Homo sapiens: one gene and its partner. The protein of the gene in region 1 interacts with the protein of each later gene in a pairwise test. Each region holds a gene or a part of one and is shown in the gene's direction. Other genes may lie near its edges. The genes, in order: KLHL10 and GSTO2.

What was found.
Region 2: the proteins of KLHL10 (region 1) and GSTO2 interact in binary tests that used the Homo sapiens proteins (3 or more experiments, as listed by UniProt).

Annotation. Positions count from the first base shown.
Region 1 is NC_000017.11:41,832,743-41,842,202, forward strand, and holds the start of KLHL10 (kelch-like protein 10), read left to right. Parts: upstream 1-5,082; 5' UTR 5,083-5,190; coding exon 5,191-5,384; intron 5,385-9,080; coding exon 9,081-9,460. Other genes in the region: NT5C3B (7-methylguanosine phosphate-specific 5'-nucleotidase), read right to left, coding at 2,328-2,374, 2,461-2,530, 3,117-3,215, 3,440-3,451. UniProt on the Homo sapiens protein: May be a substrate-specific adapter of a CUL3-based E3 ubiquitin-protein ligase complex which mediates the ubiquitination and subsequent proteasomal degradation of target proteins during spermatogenesis.
Region 2 is NC_000010.11:104,263,237-104,273,087, forward strand, and holds the start of GSTO2 (glutathione S-transferase omega-2), read left to right. Parts: upstream 1-5,947; 5' UTR 5,948-6,033; intron 6,034-9,851. Other genes in the region: GSTO1 (glutathione S-transferase omega-1), read left to right, coding at 2,848-2,954, 4,016-4,169. UniProt on the Homo sapiens protein: Exhibits glutathione-dependent thiol transferase activity. Has high dehydroascorbate reductase activity and may contribute to the recycling of ascorbic acid. Participates in the biotransformation of inorganic arsenic and reduces monomethylarsonic acid (MMA).

The DNA of each region.
Region 1 (9,460 bases):
CTTTAATCCCAGCTACTCAGGAGGCTGAAAAATGAGAATCGTTTGAACCCAGGAGGCGGAGGTTGCAGTGAGCCAAGACGAGATCACACCACTGCACTCCAGCCTGGGCCACAGAGTAAAACTGTGTCTCAAATAAAAAGAAGATGCAACTTCATCTAAGAGAGTGTTACATGAAATTTTCTTCAAGTTTTCCTTTGGGGACATGTCATTTATAAGACCTAAGTTTCTCTTCTCATATTATCTTCCAACATAATCGCTCAATACACTCACATTTTTACCCATTTGGTGAAGTCCAGGGAGCACCTGGATCCACAGAGCTGGTCATTCCTTTGTACTCACCCTGAGAGTGAGGTCTAAAAGTCAGCAATATGAGATTTTACTATCAGAGAAGAAGGGTACTAAGATTTTTTTGCTGTTATTAATTAGCTCAATTTTCAGGGCTTAACCAGTAAGAACTTACTTAATGCTGTGTTTCCCAGAATGTGGTCCACTTTCTCAGGTGATAGGTAAGAAAACTTTAGGGAATTCATGGAGAAGCGCTTTTCAACTCAGAAGTTTTGGATTCATTTTCATGTACAATTTTTTTTTTTTTTGAGACAAGTCTCACTCTGTTGCCCAGGCTGGAGTGCAGTGGCGCAATCTCGGCTCACTGCAACCTCCGCCTCCCGGGTTCGAGCAATTCTTCTGCCTCAGCCTCCCGAGTAGCTGGGATTACAGGCAGGCACCACTACGCCCAGCTAATTTTTTGTATTTTTAGTAGAGACAGGGTTTTGCCATGTTGTCCAGGCTGGTCTCGATCTCCTGACCTCAACCGATCTGCCCGCCTCAGCCTCCCAGAAATGCTGGGATTACAGGCGTGAACCACCACACCCGGCCTGTTTCTTTATAAGTTAATTACAATTTTTAAAAGCAGGCCAATTTAGAGAAAGATTTAGTAAAGGTGATATACAGATATGGCAAAAAAAATGAAATATAACTAGAAGACTGTACTTTGGGACACAGCATGTTGGTGGACAATTCCGTCAAAAGTGTCAATATCATGTGAATGCACAGCATCTATGTGTGTTTCCTCTAAGGTTTCCTTCTATGTGCCAAGACTTTGACACTCTAAAGGGGCTGTTCCAGGGATCATGTGTTACACAGAGCCAGTCCGTAACAGTGCCTAGTAAAAATGAGAATTGACCAAGTAAAGAATTTTAATACATGCATGATTCTCAGGAACATTACAAGATCAAATGGAATCCCTGTCCATCTGTTCAAAAGAAGATTAAATGAAAGATGACATAGTAACAAAGGCAGAAAACTTCTGAAATGTATTAAGATTCTCAATCTGTGTGTTTTTTTGGAGTGAGAACCTTTCTCTAAAAATCAGGCTGGGCAAGATGGCTCATGCCTGTAATCTCAGCACTTTGGGAGGCCAAGGCGGGCGGATCACCTGAGGTTGGGAGTTCGAGATCAGCCTGACCAACATGGAGAAACCTCGTCTCTACTAAAAATACAAAAATTAGCCGGGCATGGTGATGCATGCTGGTAATCCCAGCTACTCGAGAGGCTGAGGCATGAGAATTGCTTGAACCGAGGTTGCAGTGAGCTGAGATTATGCCACTCCAGCCTGGGCCATAGAGCAAGACTCTGTCTCAAAAAAAAAAATACACACACACACACACACACACACACACACACTAGAACCCAACAGAAGAATATAAATTTTCTTTTAAAAAGGCCAGGTGTGGTAGCTCATGCCTATAAGCCCAGCACTTTGGGGAGGCTGAGGAAGGAGGATTGCTTGAGCTCAGGAGTTCAAGACCAACCTAGGCAACATAGTGAGACCCCATCTCTACAAAAAATTTTTAAAATTAGCTAGGTGTAATGTTACATGCTTGTAGTTCCAGCTACTCAGTAGGGCTGAGGCAGGAGGATCACTTGAGCCTAGGAGGTCAAGGCTGCAGTGAACAAAGATCAAGCCATTGCACTCCAGCCTGGGTGATAGAGTGAGACCCTGTCTCAAAACAAACAAACAAACAAGCTCTGCCATTTGGCTGTATGACCCTGGGTAAGTTGCTGAACCTCCAGAATGTTCAAATCTCTTGTAAACTCTATAGCCAACAGTAAATATAATGTCCAGTTCCAACCATTAATCATCATATGTCCTGGCCAGTAAGGAAAAGCTGTCTTAATGTATTAAAACTAGACCCTCCTTAGCAAAACAACAAGTTTTTAAAAATTAATTTTCTAAGGTCTCTATACTGGAATCTTTGGTTCCAATCAGGAACCATTTGAAGTAGCAAATGACAACCATTTCTGAGCAAAGGACGGGAGCAACCCACCTCTTTCCGACACTCCTCACTGATGATCTTGCTATTATCCAGAATATCTGGAAAAAGAGAAAACTCCTTTTACTTGTCCCTTAGAACCCATCGTCTTGTCAAGCTCAACAAGGGAAGCTAGAATGTGACTTACTGTAAGAAGAAGGGCATCGCTTTCCATTATATGCAAACCTGCTCAAGGTCATGTCAAAATCAGAAATCACCTATAAGGCAAAAGAGAGATGATGCCTAAATAGGCACCAGAATTCTAGTGTGGCCCTGCCTCAGCCTGGGGGATGATTATGGAAATCAATACAGCTCAGTGGCCAGGATGTAGGCAAAGCCCTAGGGGAGTTACCGAGTGACACAGAGGGATAGAGGGGAAGTGATCCTAATTAGTACCCGTTAACCCTGAGGAAAACGCAGTCTCCTAGTGTGGGGGCAAGGGTGAATACTCAGGACCCCTCTGACTCCTTCAATATCAGGTCCCTCCTAAGAGATCTCTACCATTACGGCCCATCTGGACATCTTCAACTTACTGGGGAGCCGCTGGCTTGGGGAGGATAAGGCCCTAGGTACTGGTGTGGGCGCCTTCTGTCCAATTAGAGGAAGCAGCATGACCATATTGAGAAATCTGAAATTTGGGTTTTAGGACAGGCGAACCAACCCGCTCTCCTTCAAGCTCCCGGCCATTTCTTGGGGCAGAGAGCTAGGAGGGGTCCGCGGCAGAGCAAAGCGGGAAGGCCCAATGGGCAGGAAGCCTCTCCAGCCGCCCCCAGCCCGGCCGGCCCCCGCACGCCCCAGAGGTACCTGTAACCGGTCTCCGCCGCCCTTGCGGAGGGCGCCCACGATCTCCTGCACCCGCCCAGGCTGCCGCATCAGGACCGTGGCCTTCATCAGGGTGCTCACCTGTCCCGAGACCCGAGAGAACCACTGACCCCTGCGCCACGCTGGGCCCGAGGGGAGCCCGGGGCTCGCTCGGGCGCGCGTGTGAGGCGGGGCCGGGGTGCGCGAGGGGGCGGCTACTGGCCTGGGTGAAGCGGCGGTGCCTCGGTGACCAGCTGGGGGGCTCGAAGCGCCCCGGGGGTCGGAGTCCGGGCCCGCCCCACTCCGGACGCTTCCTCCCTCCTCACCTCCTCTGCCATCCCGTTCGAGGCCTGGTCGGCGGCTCGCGGGACAACGACAGCCCCGCGACCGCACTGCGCAGGCGTCGCCTCCCGCCTGGAGCCCGGGCGGGGGTTGGTGGGGCCGGGGGCGGGGCGGGGGTGGGGCCGAGAATCGAGCGGTCCCGGAGATGGCCGCGATCCGGGTGGGCTTGCCGGTTGCGCTAGGCAAACTGGAGGAGGGTTCTATTTATTATGAAGAGCAGGGTGAAGGTCCCAAGGTGTTGGGGTTACGTGGGTAGGTAGGGTTCTGCCACTCTTTGTGGAGGAAAAGCCTTGCCAAACGTGGTCATTTCCAGGCTGAAAGTTTGTGACAAAAACATGACTGGGGCTGGGCGCGGTGGCCCATACCTGTAATCCCAGGACTTTGGGAGGCCGAGGCAGGATGATCGCTTGAGCCGAAGAGTTCGAGACCAGCCTGGGCAATATGACGAAACCCTGTCTCTACAAAAAATACAAAAATTAGCCGGGCATGGTGACACGCACCTGTTGTAGTCCCAGCTACTCGGGAGGCTGAGGCACGAGGATCACTTGAGCCCGGGAGATCCAGGCTCCAGTAGGCCGAGATCATACCACTGCACTCCACCCTGGGTGACAGATGACACCCTGTCTCAGAAACAAAAACAGAAAAACCACACGGCTGGATGGGAGGAGAGATGAAGGAGCCATAAACTGAATTCTGTTAATCACCCAGAAAGGGCTCTGTTAACTAGGCCATTCCTCATTCCAGAAGAAACTGAGTGACTAACCCATCCAGCGGGCTGGGAGACCCGGGACAGCTTTCTGAAATGTAATCAGCGTTGGCTGGGCACGGTGCGGAGCACTTGTAATCCCAGCTATTCAGGAGGCTGAGGTGGGAGGATCACTTAAGCCCAGGAGGTCGAGGCTGTAGTGAGTTATGATCACACCACTGCACTCCAGCCTGGGTGAGAGAGCGAGACCCGTCCCTAGAAAAAGAAAGATTTTTTTTTTGAGATGGAGTCTCACTCTGTCGCCAGGCTGGAGTGCAGTGGAGCGATCTCGGCTCACTACAACCTCCATCTCCTGGGTTGAAGCGATTCTCCTGCCTCAGCCTCCCAAGTAGCTGGGACTACAGGCATGTGCCACCACGCCCAGCTAATTTTTGTATTTTTAGTAGAGACGAGGTTTCACCATGTTGGCCAGGATGGCCTTGATCTCTTGACCTTGTGATCCATCCACCTCGTGCTGGGATTACAGGTGTGAGCCACTGCGCCCGGCCTAAGAAAGAAATTTAATCAGTTTTACTTCTCCCTTCAGCCTCAATTGACTTGGATTTCCTTGAGTTCGGTGTCTAGGGAGCCAAGTGTTGGGCTGTGGAAGGTAGATGAATGCTCCAGGGATAGAGACCTGTATCAGGTGAGTAACAGGAGCTGGAATCAATAAACACTCAGATGGTGCTAGTGGTCATGGTTCTGTTTTGGGTTCAAGGACACAGAAGGAGGTGTGAGGTGGTTTTCAGCCTAAGTGGGGTGGTAAGGAGGGGAGAAGGAAGAGGACAAGTCCAGGAGGCAGTTCCAGAACCTGAGAGCACAATCCTGTGTGATCTCACTGCAGGGCCAGGATTCTGGAACTTGGGTTGCCTGATAGACCCTATACAAAAGATGTAGTAGGGAAAAGGAGCGACAGCTGGCTAAAGGGGCCCCCCACAACCCTCCCCGACACCCTAGGAAAGCAGCCTCTCTCCGCTGTCCCAGGGTGCCATGGAGATGGAGAGCGCGGCGGCCTCCACACGTTTCCACCAGCCTCACATGGAGAGGAAGATGAGTGCGATGGCCTGTGAGATCTTCAACGAGCTTAGACTAGAGGGCAAGCTCTGCGACGTGGTCATCAAGGTCAATGGCTTTGAGTTCAGTGCCCATAAGAACATCCTCTGTAGCTGCAGTTCCTACTTTAGGTATAACAGGGTTGCCAAATTCAGCCAAAGGGGTAATTGGGCTCATTTTGAGACACTTTGATCCATTTTCTGTTTCCCACCCCATCACCTTAACTTTAGGGACACTGTCAAAGCTCTGGGCTCCTTAAAAATTAAAAAAAAATTTTTTTTTTAGAGATAAGCTCTCATTCTTTCACCCAGGCTGGAGTGTAGTGATGCAATCATAGCTCACTGCAGCCTTCAACTGCTGGGCTCAAACAATCCACCTACTCCAGCCTCCCAAGTAGCTAGGTCTACAGGCACATGCTGCTACGTCCGGCTACTTTTGAAATGTTCTGTAGAGAGGGAGTCTCGCTATGTTGCCCAGGCTGGTCTTGAACTCCTGGCCCAAAGCGATCCTCCTGCCTCAGTCTCCCAAAGTGCTGGGATTACCACTGTGCCTGGCCAACTCTGGTCCAGGCAGGAGCTCCTGCCTGGCTCCTTTGCCTTCTGAAGAGGCATGACTAGGGTCAGGGCCTTTTTTCTCTCTTTTTTTTTTTTGTTTGTTTTGTTTTTTTTTTTCCTTTTGCTCTTGAGAGATCTGATTTTTGTCTTTTTTTTTTGAGATGAGTCTCATTCTGTTACCCAGGCTGGAGTGCAATGGCGCCATCTCGGCTCACTGCAAACTCCGCCTCCCCAGTTCAATCCATTCTCCCACCTCAGCCTCTCAAGTAGCTGGGATTACAGGCGCCTGACACCACGCCCGGCTAATTTTTGTATTTTTAGTAGAGACAGGGTTTTGCCATGTCGCTCAGGCTGGTCTCAAACTCCTGACCTCAGGTGATCTGCCCGTCTTGACCTCCCAAAGTGCTAGGATTACAGGCATTAGCCACCGCGCCTGGCAAGATACAATTTTTCTTTTTTTAAGATGGAGTCTCGCTTTGTCCCCCAGGCTGGAATGCAGTGGCGTGATCTCGGCTCACTGCAACCGCTGCCTCCCAGGCTCAAGCGATTCTTCTGTCTCAGCCTCCCGAGTAGCTGGAATTACAGGCTCCCGCCACCATGCCCAGCTAATTTTTGTGTTTTTAGTAGAGACGGGGTTTCACCATGTTGGTCAGTCTGGTCTCGAACACCTGACTTCGTGATCCACCCACCTTGGTCTCCCAAAGTGCTGGGATTACAGGCATGAGCCACTGCACCCAGCCTTTAAGGTCTGATTTTTCAACTGGATTTCAACCAACTATTGGTGGGCCAGGTGCTTTAATCTTTGATTCTCACCCAAACCAACCTTTGGGAAGGTTGGACATCCCTACTGGATTTCAGATGACAATGCCACTTCAGGGACCCCCCTGTACCCCTATCCCAATAGAGACCATTTCAAACAGGGTGATAAATTAACAAGGATTAAGGGGATGGGAAGGGAGATGAGGGGGAAATACCCAGGAAATATCAGAAGAAAAAGGGAGTTTGGGCTAAAACCATTGTAACCCAGGAGGTAGAAGGGCTATTTTGTTCATGAGCTGAAAATGTTTGAGTAATCAATTCCAATGAAGATATGATCAATGTGTCCTACCTGTTGCTAAAACTTCTCATTCAGGTAGACCACAGAGCAGAGTCCACAATTTATTTTTTATTTTTATTTTTTTGAGATGGAGTCTTGCTCTGTCACCCAGGCTGGAGTGCAGTGGCACAATCTCAGCTCACTGCAACCTCCACCTCTCAGGTTCAAGCGATTCTCCTGCCTCAGCCTCCCGAATATCTGGGATTACAGCTGTGTGCCACCACATCTGGCTAATTTTTCTTTTTTTTTTTGAAATGGAGTTTTGTTCTTGTCACCCAGGCTGGAATGCAATGGCATGATCTCTGCTCACTGCAACCTCTGCCTCCCAAGTTCAAGCAATTCTCCTGCCTCAGCCTCCCGAGTAGCTGGGGTTACAGGTTTCACTATGTTGGCCAGGCTGGTCTTGAACTCCTGACTTCAGGTGATCCGCCTGCCTCAGCCTCCCAGAGTGCTGGGATTACAGGCGTGAGCCAACGCGCTCAGCTGAGTCCAGAAATAGACCAAATAGTAATTGTTTTAGGTTTTTGCAGGCCACACAGTCTGTTGCAACTACTCTGTTTTTATACTGCAAAAGCAGCCTTAGACAATACTAAATGAATGGGTGTGGCTGTATTCCAATAAGATTATTTATGGACACTGAAATTTAAATGTATTATAATTTTCAGGTGTCACAGAATATTCTTTTGATTTTTTCCCCCAACCAGCGGGGCGCAGTGGCTCACGCCTGGAATCCCAATAATTTGGGAGGCTGAGGTGGGTGGATCATGAGATCAGGAATTCAAGACCAGCCTGGCCAAGATGGTGAAATCCCATTTCTACTAAAAATACAAAAAACCGGGCATAAATACAAAAAGCCGGGCATGGTGGTGGGCACCTATAATCCCAGCTACTCGGGAGGCTGAGGCAGAGAATTGCTTGAACCTGGGAGGCAGAGGTTGCACTGAGCCAAGATCAAGCCACTGCACTCCAGCCTGGGTGACAGAGCGAGACTCCATCTCAAAAAAAAAAAAAAGATTTTTTCCTCCAGCCATTTAAAATGTAAAAATCATTCTTAATTTGTGGGCAGCATGAAAACAAGAGGTGGGCCAAATTTGGACAGAGTCCATAGGTTTGCAGACCCCTGCTCTAGAGGAAGAATTTGATTTCTAAGACCACATTTCCTTAAACTTCTTAAAAAAAGGAAGCAAAAGCCGGGCATGGTGGCTCACCCGTGTAATCCCAGCACTTTGGGAGGCCGAGGCAGGCAGATCACCTGAGGTCAGGAGTGCGAGACAAGCCTGACCAATATGATGAAACCAGCCTGGCCAACATGGTGAAATCGCATCTCTACTAAAAAATACAAAAATCAGTTGAGCGTGGTGGCACACACCTATAATCCCAGCTACTCAAGAGGCTGAGGCAGGAAAATTGCTTGCACTCTGGAGTTGGAGGTTGCAGTGAGCCAAGATCATGCCATTGCACTCTACCCTGGGTGACAGAGCAAGACCCTGTTTCCAAAAAAAAAAAGAAAAAAAGAAAAGAAAACAATTAATAAAAAGAGAAGCATTCCTGTTCTCATGAAGTTTACCCCCTGGATGGGGAAACAGGCATTAAATGAGTAAAATGCATATCAAATCATCATAAATGCCTGGGAAAATAAGAAAAGGAAGATAAAAAGCAGTGAGTGGCCATTTTATTTTTATTTTTTCAGACAGAGTCTCGCTGTGTCCCCCAGGCTGGAGTGTAGTGTCATGATCTTGGCTCACTGCAACCTCCGCCTCCCAGGTTTAAGCGATTCTCCTGCCTCAGCCTCCCAAGTAGCTGGGACTACAGGCATGTGCCACCATGCCCAGCTAATTTTTGTATTTTTAGTAGAGACGGGGTTTCACCACGTTGGCCAGGCTGGTCTTGAACTCCTGACCTCATGATCCACCCGCTTCGGCCTCCCAAAGTGCTGAGATTATAGGCGTGAGCCACCACGCCTGGCCCAAGAGACCTGGGTCTTACTCTCAGTTCTAGATCTTAATTTCTCCATCCACAAGGTAAGAGTGACCAAAGTCAGAGTTCTTGGAAAGGTGTTCTTCTTGTCCACTGTATATAGCACATGCCTGCACCCCACTTTCTCAGACCATTTCCAATGTACTCACCTAACAGGAGAGAAATGTTTCCGTGGCTGCTAGTTTCTTTCTTTTTTCCAGAGCTTTGTTTACAAGTGGCTGGAACAACACTGAAAAGAAGGTATACAACATCCCTGGCATTTCTCCCGACATGATGAAGCTAATCATTGAGTATGCATACACCCGGACCGTGCCTATCACACCGGACAATGTGGAGAAACTGCTTGCTGCTGCAGACCAGTTTAACATCATGGGTATCGTCAGGGGTTGCTGCGAGTTCCTCAAGTCAGAGCTGTGCTTGGATAATTGTATCGGCATCTGTAAGTTCACGGACTACTACTACTGTCCTGAGCTGAGGCAGAAGGCCTACATGTTCATACTGCACAACTTTGAGGAGATGGTGAAAGTCTCGGCAGAATTTTTAGAGCTCTCGGTCACTGAACTTAAGGATATCATTGAGA
Region 2 (9,851 bases), on another chromosome or scaffold:
GCAGAAAGCTGTCCTGCTTAAGATATAAATCAAAACACCTAAACAGACTTTGTCATGGGCTTGCTTTTAAAATATTCTGCTAATGTTAAAATAACAAGGAAAAAGGAAATTGTACCCACGTTTCCACAAGTTTTTATGTATCCAGTTTTCCATGCTTGTTTGCAGTCCTTGTCCATATATTTAAAAAAAATTAATATAGCTCTAATCAGAGCATAGATATCATTCTGTGTCCTGCTTTTTTTCCTGTGTCCACTTAGTATTACATACTAAATATTTCCCACCAGAAAAAGTTTGCAATGAACAGTACAGACACTTGAGGGAAGCCCAGATGTATTTTACCTTCTTTTGGGGACAGCTGACATTTGGGCCTTGGAGTCTGTCTCTTGGCCTTGAAATATTTCATTCATGCTAAGCCTGAAGTTTTTACTGACAGAAGACATAGTTCCTGTCTTTCATGGGAATGCATTTTAACATTTTATCAGTAAGCATGATGTTTGCTGTAGGTTTTTCAGAAACCTTTTTTTCATTATAAAGTTCTCTTCTATTACTAGTTTGCTAATTTTTAAAAAAGTCATAAATGTTGAATTTTATTGAATGGTTTTTCTGCATCTGTTACATCTATTGAAATGTTCATAGAATTTTTTCCTCTTAATCTGGTGAATATGGTGCTATTGACAAATTTTTTTTTTTTTAATGTTTAACCATCCTAGCATTCCTAAGATAAAACCTACTTGTTCTCTATGGATTTTTATATGTACTGTAGAATTAGCTAATGAATGATTTTTGTATGTGTGTTCATAAATGAGATTGGCCTATAAATTTTCTACTCTTATAGTATCATTATTGGCTTTTGGTTTCAAGGATATTCTGACCTCATAAAATGAGTTGGGTAACTAACCTGTTTTTCTAATCTCTGAAACCATTTGGTAGGGACTAGCGGTTTCTTTAAAACATTTGAGCCTGGTGTCTTTAACAGGGGTAGATTTTTCATTACTAGTTTGATTTCTTTAATGGTAATTGGTTTTTTGGTTTTATATTTCTTCTTGAATCAGTGTTGGTACTTTTATATTTTTCTGCTGAACAGTGTGGGAGCTGGAAAGTAAGATGCAGTCCATATTCTTCAGATAATTAGTTTAGTAGTAGACAGAACACAGTAGGTAGATATAAGCAATCTAAAATGCATATTATGCATTGAAAAAAAACTATGGAGGTTATTTATAAAGGGCAAATTAGTTTGGTGGTTTAAATAGCCAGATAATATTCTCAATCACCCCCTTTGGCAAACCCTGTAACCAATTCGCCTTCTTAAAATTTCAGAAACATACAATTTGTGTTTTGTTTTCAAATGATTGTCATCTGTTTAGCAGTTAATCCAGTCTATTTCCAGTATATTTTAAGTACAAATGCTTTTGCACTTACAATGGGGTTACATCCAATAAACCCACCGTAAGCTGAAAATATCATAAGTGGAAAATGCATTTAATAAACCCAACCTACAGAGCATCATAGCTTAGCCTAGCCTGCTTTAAATGTGCTCAGAAAACTTCCATTAGCCTGCAATTAGGCAAAATCATCAAACATAAAACCATCAAACATAAAATATTTATAAAGTGTTGAATATCTCATATAATTTATCGAATACCTGCATCCAAAAGATGCTGGCAACACAGCACACTTTAGAGCATTGGTTGTTTACTCTCTTGATGGTATGGCTGCCCAGCATCAAGAGTTATCATACTGCAAATCGATAGCCCAGGAAAAGAGCAAAATTCAAAGTTCAAAGTAGAGTTTTTACTGAATGCTTGCTTTTGCACCGTCGTAAAGTTGAAAAGAATTTAAATTGAACCATCATAAGCTGCAGACTGTGCATTTTATATTGAAAAGTTAATATTTTTAATTTTTAATGCAGAGAAGTACCCAAAGCATAAAAACACAACACGTTTTCACAAAGCGAACACAGCCATGGAACCAGCACCCATATCAACTAACAAAATACTAGTTTGGGCTTTTTTGTACTTTATACAAATGGACTCATATAATGTTCATCTTTTGGGTCTGCCTGCTTTCATTCAATATTAGGTTTGTGGGTTCATCTCTGCTGTGTGTAGTTCTTTCCTGTTCTTTATACAGTGTTCCAAAGTATAGTATATTACACTTTACCCATTCTACTCTTGATAGTAAACGTTTTCACATTTGGGCTATTACAAATAGTGCTGCAGTGAACATTCACATAACATATCTTTTGGTGAACATGTGTTACATTGCCAAGTACAATTGCTGGGTGATGAGTATGCATACTCTTAAAACATGGTTGTACCAATTTACACCTCTACGACAGTGGTTCCATACCCTTGCCAACTTCATTTTGTTCATTGTAGGCATTCTCTTGGGTGTATAGTGTTATTGCATTTTGGTTTTAATTTGCATTTCCCTAATGACTAATGCAGTTGAACACCTTTCCAAATGATAATTGGCCATTTGGACATCATCTTTCTTGAAGATCAAGTCTTGCTCATTTTTCCAATGGGTCGTTTGCTATTTTTCTTACTGATTCCCAGGAATCCTTTCTATATTCTGAATACCAGTCCTTTGTATTACAAATATGTTGTACTCTGTGACTTGTTTTATTTTTCAATTTTCCAGTTTATGTTGTTGATTGTTTTACTTCATCCCAGACCAACAGATTCTAAAGCTTAATTAAGCTTTTTGATCAGAAAAAAACCCAACTTGGATACATCGGAGTAAAAACTGCTTCTCTCACCTGCTCTACTTATTTCCCTTCAGCATTTCTAGTGAGTCTTACTACATGCACAAGTAAGAAATACTTTTATGCTGTTTAATGTTCAGGTTCTGACTAATAAGAAGACGACCTTCTTTGGTGGCAATTCTATCTCTATGATTGATTACCTCATCTGGCCCTGGTTTGAACGGCTGGAAGCAATGAAGTTAAATGAGTAAGATATTTGAATATTTTGTGCATAATTTAGGATGACAGGTGGAATAGTATATATTGACCTTTCTTTATAACAGAAGTTGAAATATTTAATACAACTGGTCTGAATGAGAACAAGCAGACAGGGGAATCTTGGACTATCCCAGGCATGTCATATACCTACACTAACTACTCTCCATCACTGCAATGGGGCAGGGGATTTCTGAGACATGTAGTAAAGTGCTTTAAAATTTATTCCTTCCTTCCTGATTAAAAACCCATAAGGGGAAGGATATGGTAGCTTACGCCTGTAAGCCCAGCACTTCGGGAGGCCGAGACGGGTGGATCATCTGAGGTCAGGAGTTAGAGACCAGCCTGGCCAATGTGGTGAAACCCCATCTCTACTAAAAATACAAAAATTAGCTGGGCATGGTGGTACACACCTGTAATCTCAGCTACTCGGGAGGCTGAGGCAGGAGAATCACTTGAACCCGGGAGGCAGTTGCAGTGAGCTGAGATCATGTCACTGAACTCCAGCCTGGGCAAGAGCAAGACACTTCATCAAAAAAAAAAAAAAAATTCCATAAGGTTGTAAATTTTTGTAAGGATGTTGTTGCGGGATTGTACGACCAGTGTTACCTCCCATTTACCGTAAGATTTCCACATTATTTTCCAAATTCTGTTTTGAGTTTGGCAGCCACCTTGCCTTACTCCGGCTTCTTGGACGATAGAGCTATTCAGGGTTACTTTTGGTCATAATCTGGGTGTAGAATAATTAACATAGAACATTCCTGATTGTATTCCCTGTTCTTATTTTAATAAATTGTCAGTTTCTCTCTTTGGGCAAGTTCTCACATTAACTGAACAAATTGCTTCACTCTAGTCTCATTCCTTTTGTGTAAAAAAGGGACCTCTATAGTGTCTTTCAAATTGAATATTCTATTACAGGCATTTTTAAATATTTTTAATGAAATATTTAAGGGAAAAAAGTGAAACTGTAGAGTAATAATTACATATGGGAGACTCTGTGATGTCATCCTAGTTGACCTAGCTCACACCTTTCATTTTTTCCTCTTCCCACAGGTGTGTAGACCACACTCCAAAACTGAAACTGTGGATGGCAGCCATGAAGGAAGATCCCACAGTCTCAGCCCTGCTTACTAGTGAGAAAGACTGGCAAGGTTTCCTAGAGCTCTACTTACAGAACAGCCCTGAGGCCTGTGACTATGGGCTCTGAAGGGGGCAGGAGTCAGCAATAAAGCTATGTCTGATATTTTCCTTCACTAATATGAATAATAGCATGCTTTTATTTTACCAAGGTTCAGGTTGCATGGGATCATCTTCTCTGACTGATTTGACATCAACAGCCAAACGGTGGGGGTCTCCTTAACGCCCCCCTACAGAAATGAAAATGCATTTCCTGTCTCAGGATGCTGAAACGACTCTGAGGGTTCTATCATAGTCCATGCTGAAAACCCCCAAATTATCATCTTTAGCAAAATCTGGACTTGAATCTTTTTTTTTTTTTTGAGACGGAGTTTCACTCTTGTTGACCAGGCTGGAGTGCAATGGCCTGATCTCAGCTCACCGCAACCTCCGCCTCCTGAGTTCAAGCGATTCTCCTGCCTCAGCCTCCTGAGTAGCTGGGATTACAGGCATGCGTCACCACGCCTGGCTAATTTTTTTGTATTATCAGTAGAGAAGGGGTTTCTCCATGTTGGTCAGGCTGGTCTCCAACTCCCGACCTCAGGTGATCGGCGCGCCTCGGCCTCCCAAAGTGGCATGAGCCACCGTACCCGTCCACAATCTAACTTTATAACTGCTCACAGGAAATACCCACTCAGTTACCCTGTTGTGTGATTTCATGAGATGCTCTCTTGTTGCTTGTCTTCTGGTTTCTTAGTTGAGAAGCTTTCAATTCCTCCTTCTTTCATTTCCATCATCAACTTAATTTCACATTCTCTCTATTGTTGGCCCTGAAGACCAGACGCACATTACCCGAAAGCTGGGTGGCTGGGCAGACTCCTATTTGGTCTCCCTGTCTCTAACCCCTTCAAATCCTTCCTATCAAATCCCATGTTGGGCACATAGGTGGTGTCCCATTTATGTAATTAAATACTGTGTAGGCTGCATCAGTCAATTCTGCCTACAAGGTTGATGAGTAATAGGTAAGAGCCCCACTGAGAAATAGAAATGCCATCTTCCACACATTTCCATAGCCCACTGGGTTGCTCACTATTCAATTTTTATTATCACATCACCACCACGAGAAGGTAGGTCGGAGAGCAATCATTTCATTCTATAGATGATGCAACTAAGGTCCCGAGGTTAAGTGAGGCCTTAAGGTGCTGGCAGAAAGATCACACCCAGCGCACTGCTCTTACCATTGGAATCAGGGCTGTCGGTCCGCTCCAATTGTCTGGTTTCCTGAACTTATTTTCAAGTTCGCCATTGAGAGAAACCTCCGAATGACTAATTCTTAAATTTAAGGGTGCATAATAATCACCTATGGCTCACCGCTGCATTTCCGATTCAGCAGGCTGGGGTGGGTAGCGAAGTCTGTATTTCAAATGAGCCCCTCAACCCAGGTGACGCAGGCGGTGTGGGGACCGCATCCGGAGGGCGACCTGGAGCCGACTGACTTCACAAAGGCCTCCTGCCGCAAACCTTCAGCGGCCACCAAAGCCCCGGCTGCCGGCGGCGGACCACCTCTGCTGCCGCGCGCCTACCGGAGCCGCTTGGCCCTAGTGCTTTCCAGCGGATTTCCCCTCAGGTGCGGAGCCGGGTGCCGGGGTCCCACAGCCAACCACTACCGGTTCCTCTTTCGTCAGCCACCGGCGCCGGCAGGACCCGCGAATCCCGATCTCCAGGAGCCTGTAAGGAGGCCGCCCATTGGCTCAGCCGCACTGCTGGGCAGGTACTTCCAAAGCTTTGAGGATTGGCTGATGCTCTGGGCGCCGGGGCTAGTTGGCGGGTAGGATCACGTGCGAGGGGCAGGCCCCGTCTAGGCCCCGCCTCCTTGCTGCTGCTGCCGCCGCCAATCCTGGTCCGGTTGCCCGAGTTCCCGGAGGTCTCTCGCGGGACCTCTCTCACCGCCACCGGTGGGTCCGTTCGGCCTGCGTTGTATTGGAAGGGAAGAGGGGTTTGAGGTCAATTCTGTTTCCTGGGGTTTTCACGAATTTCGGGGCCCACAGTAGGCTTGCCAACTTTAACTTTTGCCTAACACTTTACGAGAAATCCTATTTAGCCTTGGCCACTGTTGCATCAAAGAATTTCACATCCAACAAAGTGCAGCCTAAGAATAAAGAACAGGTCTTTAAACCGCATACCTTTAATTAAGGTGTTCTTATTTTTTCTGATTTGGCTGGAAACAGGCAGAGACCACCCCAGATAACCAGTTCTCAGCCTTGCGTGGGACACCACGAGTCCCACGTGTTTACGTGTTTAAGGCACTGGCAAGCAGGGGAATTTGGTTTCTGGGAATGTGCTGTCTTTGTGAAAACTGTGAAAAGTCTTCCCTGCTACATTGAAATAATCATAAAATAATAATAGCTAATGTTGAACACTTACTATGTATCAGACACATGCTAAGCATTCAATATTTCTCATCCAGTTTCTGAATGAAACCTTCGCAAACCACATAATGTACTGGTACTATTAGCTACGAATTACATATAAGAACACCCGAAAGTTGTTGTCATTTGCCCAAGGTCACCCAGCTAATAAATATTGAAGAGATTCGAATCTAGCCTGAACTCTTACAGTAAGACCGTTCGTGAGATGAATTTATATGTGCTATTTTTCCAGTCTCTTTATCCAACAGCTCTGACAGAGGATAGTATCTACCTTTTTTTTTTTTTTTTGAGACGGAGTCTCGCTGTTCTGCCCAGGCCGGACTGCAGTGGCGCGATCTCGGCTCACTGCAAGCTCCGCCTCCCGGGTTCACGCCATTCTCCTGCCTCAGCCTCCCAAGTAGCTGGGACTACAGGCGCCCGCCACCGCGCCCGGCTAATTTTTTGTATTTTTAGTAGAGACGGGGTTTCACCGTGTTAGCCAGGATGGTCTCGATCTCTTGACCTCGTGATCCGCCCGCCTCAGCCTCCCAAATCGCTGGGATTACAGGCGTGAGCCACCGCGCCCGGCCTGTATCTGCCTTTTTGACCACACCATTATTCGTGGGATTTAACAGGAGTTAATGAGTTAATAATGTTCCTTTTCCAAACTCAGTGGTTTTGATTTTACAAATTATTTGACTTTTCCTGATTTCAGGATCTTGACAATTTGCCTTTACTTATTCAAATGTTATTATACCAAATATTTATTTAAAAAGTTTTTTTTTTCTTTGATTCCTCAAGTTGTAGAGAGAAATAGGGATAGGGAAGCAGAATCAAGTAGTTAAAAAGATAGCCTCATTTGACCCTGATTTCCCAATTGGGAATATGAAATTTTTCCTGAATATAAGCACATTTGAGAATAGAACCTTTTACCTAACGTATCTCACTTTTTGAACTCATTGGACAATAAGGGAACACCCAGTAATATAATCTTTCATATAAATTAGGCTTCTAACTTATTAAGAGGAATGTACTCCAGTCCAGTTTCTGCTACTATCAAGAGATGGCGTGACAAAAAATTTTGAAAAGTTGCCGAATGCAAACCACAGTTCCTCTTCTCAAAACAAATGCATGTAAATAGAGTGTAAGCTATTTCTTTGGTGGCATTATTTTCCTAGAAGGCTTAAGTCGTTAATCACCCATGACCGAAGATCCAAACATTTTCAAAGCAGATCCGATCATATTTCAGGTGGCTGAAAATGGATTTGGAGTAGGTTTAATATGGTCTACTTACAATTTGTTTCATGATTGAGTGGGTCAGTATAATAAAGGTATAAACATGAAATAACATAGAAGGAAAGTTTGCAAAGAGGATTTCAAAGAAGTACCTGTTGGGTATTCAAAAGAAAGTAGGGATAAGCTTAAGGTTAAAATCTTTCTAGGGAAAGTATAGTGTTCAGAGGTAAGATTAAAAACCACATTACTGAAATGGAGTCTGCAGCATTCAGCCCATTCAATTGGCATTAAACTGGTAACTGGTGAAATAAGTATTGTGAGTTGAACTTTAATTCTAATATGCTTGGCAAAGCCGAATCACAGTGTGCTTCATCTTTGTGGATACAAAATTGGAATGCACTCTGCTATTTAAAATGTGTTCTTACTCACTAGCGTTTGTCATTAACTTTGACGTATACTGAGCTCTTACTATACTGACGATGCCCTGGACTATTTGATTCGATACTCACAATTCATAAAGTAGGTATTATTGGTGTTCTCATTTTGCAGGTGAGGAAAGTGAAATCCAAAAAGGTTAGATAGCTTGCCTAAGTGCCAAAGCTGGGTCTCAAAAAGTCAGCCCATTGGGCTCCAGGGCCTGTTCTGAGAACCTTGACACTAGATTGTTTCCCTTTAGAGGAGAACAGCTTCCATCCCTGTCTTCTAACTCTACCAAATTAACTTGGCATTTCAGAACTTGATTTCCCACATACAGATACACTTTTCATGAACATTTCCCAACTCTCAGAGTTAGTTTCTTTTAAAAGGTGGGAATGAAAAAACAAAACTTGGAAAATCATCCTCTTCTGGCAAAGTAGAAAGGTGGATCCAGGAACCTTTTAATTTACAAATGGAATTCCCAGTTTGGCCATTATCCAGAGACCATGGATGGGCAAATTAAGGCCATTGGGCTAAATCCAACCAATTGTTGGTTTTTTTATAGCTCAATATCTAAGAATGATTTTTTACATTTTTAAAGGGTTGAAAAAGAAAAACCAGTCACAACGTGATATGTGAAAATTATATGAAATTCACCAAGAGTGAGCCCTAATATATTAACTATGGATGTTGGGTGATAATATGTCAATGTGGGTTCATTGATTGTAATAAATGTACCTCTCTGATTGGAATATTGATAGTGGAAGAGACTGTGCATGTGCGGGGGCACAGGGTATATGGGAAATGTGTATTTTCTGCTCAATTTTGCTGTGAATCTAAAACTTTTTTTTAAAAAAAGGCTATTAAAATACATATATGCAGTTCAAATTCAGTGTGTCCATAAATACAGCCACACCCATTTGTTTATTTATCATCGATGGCTGTTTTTACACTACAAGTGTAGAACTAAATAGTGGAGACCAGATGGCCTGAAAAGCCTGAAATATTTAATATATGTAAAAACATTTGCCAATCATTCAGTTCATGGCATCTGATAAAGACTAAGATACTGGTTGAGATTGTTGCCGCTGGAGTCAAACTTCCAGGGTTCCTAGTCCTCCCTCTTTCACTTACTAGTTGAGAAGTGCTTAACTATGCTAGTCTCAGTTTACTCATCTTTTAAAGTGAATCAAAATAGAACAGTTATGGGACTTTTTTTTTTTTTTTTTTTTTTTTTTTTTTTTTTTTTTTTTTTTGAGACGGAGTCTCGCTCTGTCGCCCAGGCTGGAGTGCAGTGGCGCAGTCTCGGCTCACAGCAAGCTCCGCCTCCCGGGTTCACGCCGTTCTCCTGCCTCAGCCTCCTGAGTAGCTGGGACTACAGGCGCCTGCCACCGCGCCCGGCTAATTTTTGTGTTTTTAGTAGAGACGGGGTTTCACCACGTTAGCCAGGATGGCCTCAATCTCCTGACCTCGTGATCCGCCCGCCTCGGCCTCCCAAAGTGCTGGGATTACAGGCATGAGCCACCGCACCCGGCCCAGTTATTGGACTATTTTAAGAATTAACTGGGTCAATACACATGAAGCACCAAATATATATTAGTAATAATTTATTTTGATTTTGAGATTTTGCAACCCTCTTATGGCCTTTTTTAGGCTATGGATATATTTTTCTCAACTATCTTGAAATCTGCTTTTTTTATATGAGGGATGCA